Linked DNA regions of Homo sapiens. The protein of the gene in region 1 purifies or fractionates together with the protein of each later gene. This does not show direct contact. Each region holds a gene or a part of one and is shown on either strand. Other genes may lie near its edges. The genes, in order: CHDH and COQ8B.

The links.
Region 2: the proteins of CHDH (region 1) and COQ8B purify together in Homo sapiens (co-immunoprecipitation; one large-scale study listed by IntAct). This does not show direct contact.

What each region holds. Positions count from the first base shown.
Region 1 is NC_000003.12:53,844,007-53,847,919, reverse strand, and holds the start of CHDH (choline dehydrogenase, mitochondrial), read left to right. Parts: upstream 1-1,500; 5' UTR 1,501-1,837; intron 1,838-3,913. Other genes in the region: IL17RB (interleukin-17 receptor B precursor), read right to left, coding at 1,272-1,331.
Region 2 is NC_000019.10:40,706,741-40,710,553, forward strand, and holds part of COQ8B (atypical kinase COQ8B, mitochondrial), read right to left. Parts: intron 3,397-3,813; coding exon 3,319-3,396; intron 1-3,318.

The DNA.
Region 1 (3,913 bases):
ACACCTTCTAAGATCTCCTTTTGATGGTTTGAATGATTTGAGTTTGGGCAAAATTGTCAATCATTTATTTGTCTTTTAAAAAATGAACTCTAAGGGATATCATCAGATTTTTTTTTCCTTTTTCTGAGACAGAGTCTCACTTTGTCACCCAGGCTGGAGTACAGTGGCGCAGATCTCGGCTCACTGCAACCTCTGGCTCCCGGGTTCAAGTGATTCTCCTGCCTCAGCCTCCGGAGTAGCTGGGATTACAGGCGCCTGCCACCATGCCCGGCTACTTTTTGTATTTTTAGTAGAGACGGGGTTTCACCATGTTAGCCAGGCTGTTCCCAAACTCCTGACCTCAGGCAATCCGGCCGCCTCAGCCTCCCAAAGTGCTGGGATTACAGGCGTGAGCCACCGAGCCCGGCCAGACTTGACTTTTTTTTTTTTTTTTTAACAAATGAGCCATCATACCAGGAGCTGAGTTCTTATCAAACGGCCGGTGAGAGGCCAAGCAACAACCCTAAATGCTACCAAGCTCAAATTGTTGGCCTTGCAGCAACTACAGCAAAAGGGATGAATTCTTCCCTTTAGTGCAAAGAGCCAAGAGGGCTTCTGAACTGACACAGAGGGGAAGGATAGGAGCTGAAGACATCAGGAAACAGTGAATGGGGTTTGTCCACCAGCAGGTGACTACGGAGCTTGATGCTATATGCTATTCTAAGAGGGCAGCGGTATCATTTCAAAGGTTATTTGGGGGATGAGCTATTTTCTCTTCAGTGACCCAGAAGATTCCCTCGATCATTCAGGGTACTGGGGAAGAAAGGCAACTGCCTTCACGAGTGAACATGGCAATCAATATGGCCAAAAAGGGAGGGGGTACTAATGGAGAAACAGTTCTTGTGCCCCAACAGGTGAGCAGACCCCAAGTAACAATAACTACGTGCCAGGCCCTTCGCCGCTAATTGCAGGCCATGTCGTTATACCTTAAGAGACCCTGGTGGGTTCGGTACTGCCCTTCGTTTTACCGTTCGGGACTTGGAACTTGGTGAGCATAAATGACAGAACCAACAGTACAGGGTGGCATCTGAGACCGGGTCTGTCTGATTCCCACGCCCCTGACTCAAGCAACCTGACGCCGATGTCCGGGGCTGCCCTGAGGGTGCAGGCATGCCCCTTGAGCCGGCAGTCCGCGCACGCCTTCGGGGCAGCCTGGACTGGCGGATCAGACGACGTCAGGATCTGGGCTCGAGGGCCGGGAGATGAGGGAAGAGGTGCTGGCGGGGGCTTACCGGCTCTCGGGGTACGGCGCTCCTGCACAGCGCGGCCAGGCTTAGCAGCACGAGCGACATCGCCGGGCCACTGCGCGGGATCCAGGCCACCCGCACGCTGCGCTTTTATCCCGGCGCCGCCGGGCCGCCCCTTCTCGGCTCCGCCTCTCGCAGCGCCGACCCATTCCCGCCACCCGAACAGAGGGCGGGCCCGCTGGCCCCCTCCCAGGCTGGGGCAGGTCGCAGCGCCCTCGCCTGCTGGGGCTCGGAGGGATGGGCCGTGTCCGAGCGCTGGCGGAGCACGGGCCGCCGCGGCGCGCGCCTACCCCCGCGCACACGTGCATGCAGTGAGCCAGGTGCATCAGCTGCACCCGCCCTCGGGCTTCGCGCGCCTCCGCTGGAGCCCAGCTAGCCTCGCGGCTCCGGGGCCGACCGGGTCGGAACTGCTGCGTCCCCATTCCGGACGCAGAGAGCGCGCGGGGCGCCGGCGCCGCCGGTTAAAGTGCCGCGGGGCAGGGGCCGGGCCGCGGCCACCCGCTCCTCCCGCTCCGGTCCCGACTGTCGGGCTCTCGGCCGAGTCGCCCCGGGTGAGTAGCCGCGGAGGCGCCCCGACCACCCCGCAGCAGCGCCGCCCGGCCGCTAGCCCGGAGAGGCCTGGGGGCCGGAGGTTTGGGGCCGGGCTGGACGCCGAGACCCGGGCCCGCTTTACACAATCGCCCCGCCGCGCGAAGCGAAACGGGTGGAACGCAGACTGCCGAAGCTCACTGACTCCTTTGAGGGAGCGAATTCTTTCAGCTACGCGGGGTTAGAGCGGTAGGAGTGCCCGCTGCCCGACCCCAGGCTTTCTGGTAAATGTCTGTTTCCACCAAGTGAGTTCGGACAGCAACACCTGGGGCTCCCAAAGCGGAAGCCGTCAGCACTGGCGATTTGGAGCTGCGGTTCTCAAGTTTCCCTGGCCCGGGATCTCTAGCGCCGCCTAAAATGAGATCCAGACGGCAGGTCCGGGTCAGGCCCGGGATCTGCATTTAACGAGCCTCCACCCACGCCCCCGTAATTCGTGGGTGGGTGGCCCAGGGACCATCCTTTGAGACACAGTGGGTTTGGGGGAAAGTTCACAAAAATCAGCTGGGCTAACAGTGGAGTCACAGAGGCTGGAACTGCTGCTTCAGCCCCCTCGGTTTGCAAACGACAGGGTTGTGGTGACCAACTCAGGGCCATTTAAACTTGTAGGCAGAATTAGCTCCATTCTACAGATGAGAAGACGGAGGCCTAGAGAGGGGTATGGAACTTAGGGGTGTGTTGTCAGCTGGTGAGAGGCTGTACTAAGTCAAGCAGCTGTTTTAGCTGAGGCCCTACTTGTGTGCCAGGCCTGGCCCACCTGCCAGCTTGATTAAGGCTTGCATGGACTGGGGATCAGCCAGGGGTTTGGGCTCTGGCATGCATACGTGTGGAGTTGCAGGTAGCATTTTCAGAGAATTGCTCTGTTTCCTGACCAAGGAACTCAGTTGAGGTTGTGGCCGCACCCCTGCCTGGGACTGGGCCACCCTGAGCCCCTCATTCCACCTCTCTGAGTTGCTTTGGGCCCTGTGGCCCTTGAGAACATTTTCAGCTCTAATAGTCATCTTCCTGTTCAGCAAATACCTGCTGGGTGCAAAGGTGAACCACACATGGGTGCTGGCTGATGGGTACTCCTGGAGTGAGGATGAGTGCAGTGAGAATTATTTTCAAGGACACAAGTACCCGCCTTGCTGCGGAAGCCCAGATGAAAACAGCCTCGTCTGCAAGCTCAAGATTGTGAACTTTGTCCCATGGTGCTGAGGAACAATGGTACAGGCTTAAATGGTCATCCATTTTTGGTTTTAGAAAGGCCACCTGGTTGGCTCTGCAGGGCAAAATAGAGGGCTAGTCCCTCTGAGACGAGCGAGCAGGCAGCCATTCACTAACATGCGTTCATTCCGTGAGTATCTGATTCTGTGCTGTGGGCCAGGCTCTGGGCTGTGCTGGCTTTTCAGTTGTGTGCCAGGGCAGGCCCTGCTGTGAGCTTGGTGTTGTTCGGCACACAGGCTTTGAGACAACCAGGGTGCGGAGGTTAGGCCTGGAGACAGGGTTCATGAGTCAGACTTTCTCAGGGGGCAGTGGAGAGGAGAGGAGGATAGAGCCCTGGGGAGGAGAGCTTGCCTGAGGAGGTGGGGAGGTCTAAGGGGCTGCAGCAGGAAAGCCCAGTAGTGAGGGAGGAGCTCATGGGGTCAGATGGGGCAGAGAGACCAAGGGCACTGAGGCTGGTTGGTGGCAGTCACAGGAAGCCTTGGCAAAAGGATAGGGGAGGGGGTTTTGTAAAAAGAGAAGGGCTGAGGTTCTTTCTCCCCCCAGGGGAAGAAGTGTCAGGTGAGGGTGGTCTGGAGGTGGCTGAGCTGTAAGAAGGAGGAGTACTCAGGCAGGGGCTGCCAGGCAGAGACCCAAGACCCAGGCCAAGTGGCTTTCCTGCTGTTCTGGGTTCAGAATGACACTGCCCTGGCCCCCTGGGGCTTAGGGATGGGGTGATACCTGGTTCAGTTTCGTAGTTGGGGCTGTGGAGTGGAGGAGAGGGTGTGAAGGGCCCTGTAGCCACAACTGGAGGTTGAGGTGGGCAAACAGGTGTGTCTGCCTGTCCCCTCGGGGGTTTT
Region 2 (3,813 bases), on another chromosome or scaffold:
TAAGCCACCGCACCTGGCCTAAAAATTTCTCAGTTTTAATTTCTAATATGGTAGACATTGATAACTATAATCCACATAAATAAGCTCTTTGGAGGCTCATTCTAACAGTTTTATTGAGAAATAATTCACATACTGTTATAATTCACCATTTAAGTTATATAATTCAATGATTATTAGTATATTCACAGAGTTGTGCAAGCATCACCAGAATCAATTTTAGGACAGTTACACCACGCAAAAAAGAAACCTGGCTGGGAGTGCTGGCTCATGCCTGTAATCCCAGCACTTTGGGACGTCGGGGCGGGATCACTTGAGTTCATGAGTTTGAGACCAGCCTGGGCAATATGGTAAAACCCTGTTTCTACAAAAAATACAAAAATTAGCTGGGCATGGTGGTGCATGCCTATAGTCCCAGCTACTCAGGAGGCTGAGGCAGGAAGATCACTTGGACCCAGGAGGTAGAGGTTACAGTGAGCCGTGATCCCGCCACCGCACTCCAGCCTGGGTGACAGAGTGAGACCTTGTCTCAAAAAAAGAAAAAAAAAAAAGAAACCCTATACCCATTAGCAGTCACTCTTCATTTCCCCCAATCTCCCCAGGCCTTGACAACCACTAATCTACTTTATGTCCCTACAGATTTTCCTATTTTGTACATTTCATATTAATGGAATCATTCAATATGTGGTTTTTCAGTGTGTGGTTGCTTTTACTTAGTGTTTTTTTTTTTTGAAACAGTGTCTCGCTCTGTCTCCAAGGCTGGAGTACAATGGCATGATCTTGGTTCACTGCAACCTCCGCCTCCCCGGTTCAAGCAATTCTCCTGCCTTACCCCCCACCCAAGTAGCTGGGGTTACAGGCACCCACCACCACATCCAGCTAATTTTTTGTATTTTTAGTAGAATCAGGATTTCGCCATATTGGACAGGCTGGTCTTGAACTCCTCACCTCAGGTGATCCACCTGCCTCGGCCTGCCAAAGTGCTGGGATTACAGGCGTGAGCCACCGCAACCGGCCTCACTTAGTGTTTTCAAGATTCATCTACATTGCAGCATGTGTCAGCCCTTCATTCCTTTTTATGGCTGGATAATATTCCATTGTATGCCTATCACATTTTATTCATCCATTCATCAGTTTTAAAGGTGTGCAGGGATCCTGAGACCAAGAAGTTTGAGAGCAGCTATTCTAGGGTTTCTTACTCTGGGTACGGACAAATGTACTTTGTGAAAACGCACCAAGCCATACACTTACAGGTATGTGTACCTGGGTTTATATGCAAATTACATTTCAGCTTTGGCAAAACATTTATTTTTCTTTTTTTAATATGAACACTTTATGAATTTATGTGTCATCTTTGCACAGAGGCCGTGCTAATTTTCTCTGTCTCATTCCAATTTTTATTTATATGTGATGCTGAAGCAAGCACAGCACAACAAAGCAATTCTTAAGCCTTTATTAATTTTGAAGGCCAGTTGTGGTGGCTCACAGCTGTAATCCCAGCACTTTAGGAGGCCAGGGTAAGAGGATCTCTTGAGCCCAGAAGTTCAAAGCTGCAGTGAGCCATGACTCACCACTGCACTCTAGCCTGGGTGACAGCAAGACTCTATCTCTTAAAATAAAATTTAAAATAAAATAAAATGTTATTGAGCTCATTATTGAGCTGTTCCAGGCAGAATCCTAAGTGTCTTTGTGGATTCTCTGGCTGAATGCCCACAATCACACCTGGAAGTAAGAATTATCAATCCTTTAATTTTCAAGGTGAGAAAGCAAGAGACTCAAAGAGGTGCAGCACCTATCCCTGGGTCACATAGCATGGAAGTGGCAGAGTGGGGTGTAGACTCAGGCTGGTCATACCCAAACCCTAATCCTCCACCTACCCTCAACTTTTTATTTTGAAAAAAATATCCAGGCTGGGTGTGGTGGCTCATGCCTGTAATCCCAGCACTTTGGGAGGCTGAGCAGGGAGGATCACTTGAGGCTAGGAGTTCCAGACCGGCCTGGGCAACATGGCAAAACCTTCTCTCTACAAAAAATACAAAAAATTAGCCAGGCGTGGTGGCACGTGTCTATAATCCCAGCTATGCAGGAGGCTGAGGTGGGAGGATCACCTGAGCCTGGGGAAGTCAAGGCTGCAGTGAGCCATGATCGTACCATTGCATTCCAGCCTGGGTGACACAGCAAGACCCTGTCTCCAAAAAAAAAAAGACAGAAAAAAATCCAAACAGAAAAGTTGCATGCATAATATCGTGAACACCTGCACACCCGCACACCCTCCACCTCGATTCAACATGGTACCATTCTGCTTCGTCTGCTTTATCTGTGCGTGTACCCACACACTTACTATTATTATTTTTTGCTGACCCACTTGCATGTAGTTGCACTTAAGCTTTGCTAAGAATAAGGATATTCCCCTACACAATCACAGTACCATAATCACATGTAAGAAAATTAACACCAATTCCTTAACATCTGCCATGCAGTCCATATTCAGATTTTCCATTTGTCTCCAAAAAGTCTTTCATGGCTGTTTTTTCCAAACTGATATGCAATCATGGTTCAGATGCTCCATTTGTCAAATAATGTCTCTTTCATCTGTTTTTAATCTGGAATATCCACCCCCACTTGTTTCAAGACATTGACTTGTTGAGGGAACCTCCACCTACCCTCAACTTTTTATTTTATTTTTTATAACGGCAAATGCTACACATCTAATTCCATCTCTGATGTACACAGACCCTCGCTGGCACTTCTATTTTCAGCTTTCTGCTCCTGCTCCAAGTTAGGAACTCCCAATGGCTTAAATGTTTTCTCAGATAATCTAATATGTGGCTGGGCACAGTGGCTCATGCTATAATCCCAGCACTTTGGGAGGCCAAGGCGGGTGGATCATGAGGTCAGGAGTTGAAGACCAGCCTGGCCAACATGGTGAAACCGTCTCTACTAAAAATACAAAAATTAACCAAGCGTGGTGGCATGTGCCTATAATCCCAGCTACTTGGGAGGCTGAGGCAGGAGAATTGCTTAAACCTGGGAGGTGGAGGTTGCAGTGAGCCAAGACTGCGCCATTGTACTCCAGCCTGAGCGACAGAGTGAGACTCCATCTCAAATTAAAAAAAAAAAATCTAATATGCTTCTCTTAATCATGACCCTGATAGTGGTTTAGGCCTGTTCAAAGCACTTCACAATGACTCTAAGAGGTGGGTAAATTATCACCACCTCCATCTTCCGCATGAGGAAACTGGAGCTCAGAGGGGTGAAGTCACTTGCCCCAGGTCACACAGCAAAGCCAGGATCTGAACCCAGGCAGTGTGGCTCACTCACCTGACTGCAGACGACCTCCTGGCATGGACTTCTTAGCCATCTCGGCCAGTACTCCTAGCCCCAAGCCCACAGCCAGTCCTGGAGTGCAAGAGAAGAACATGAGTGCCCGTTTGCCTGGGGTGCCCCCAGCCTAACCCACTCTCCTTTCTCAGTTTTTCTCCAAGAATGCTTGTCTCCCAACTCTTTTTATTTTTTCTTTTGTTTGAGATGGAGTCTCGCTCTGTTGCCCAGGCTGGAGTGTGGTGGCACAATCTTGGTTCACTGCAACCTCCACCTCCCGGGTTCAAGCGATTCTCCTGCCTCAGCCTCCCGAGTAGCTGGGATTACAGGCACGCGCCCACCACGCCTGGCTAAATTTTTTTTGTATTTTTAGTAGAGACGGGGTTTCACCGTGTTGGCCAGGCTGGTCTCGAACTCCTGACCTCAGGTGATCCTCCCGCCTCGGCCTCCCAAAGTGCTGGGATTATAGGCATGAGACACCGCACTCAGTCTTGT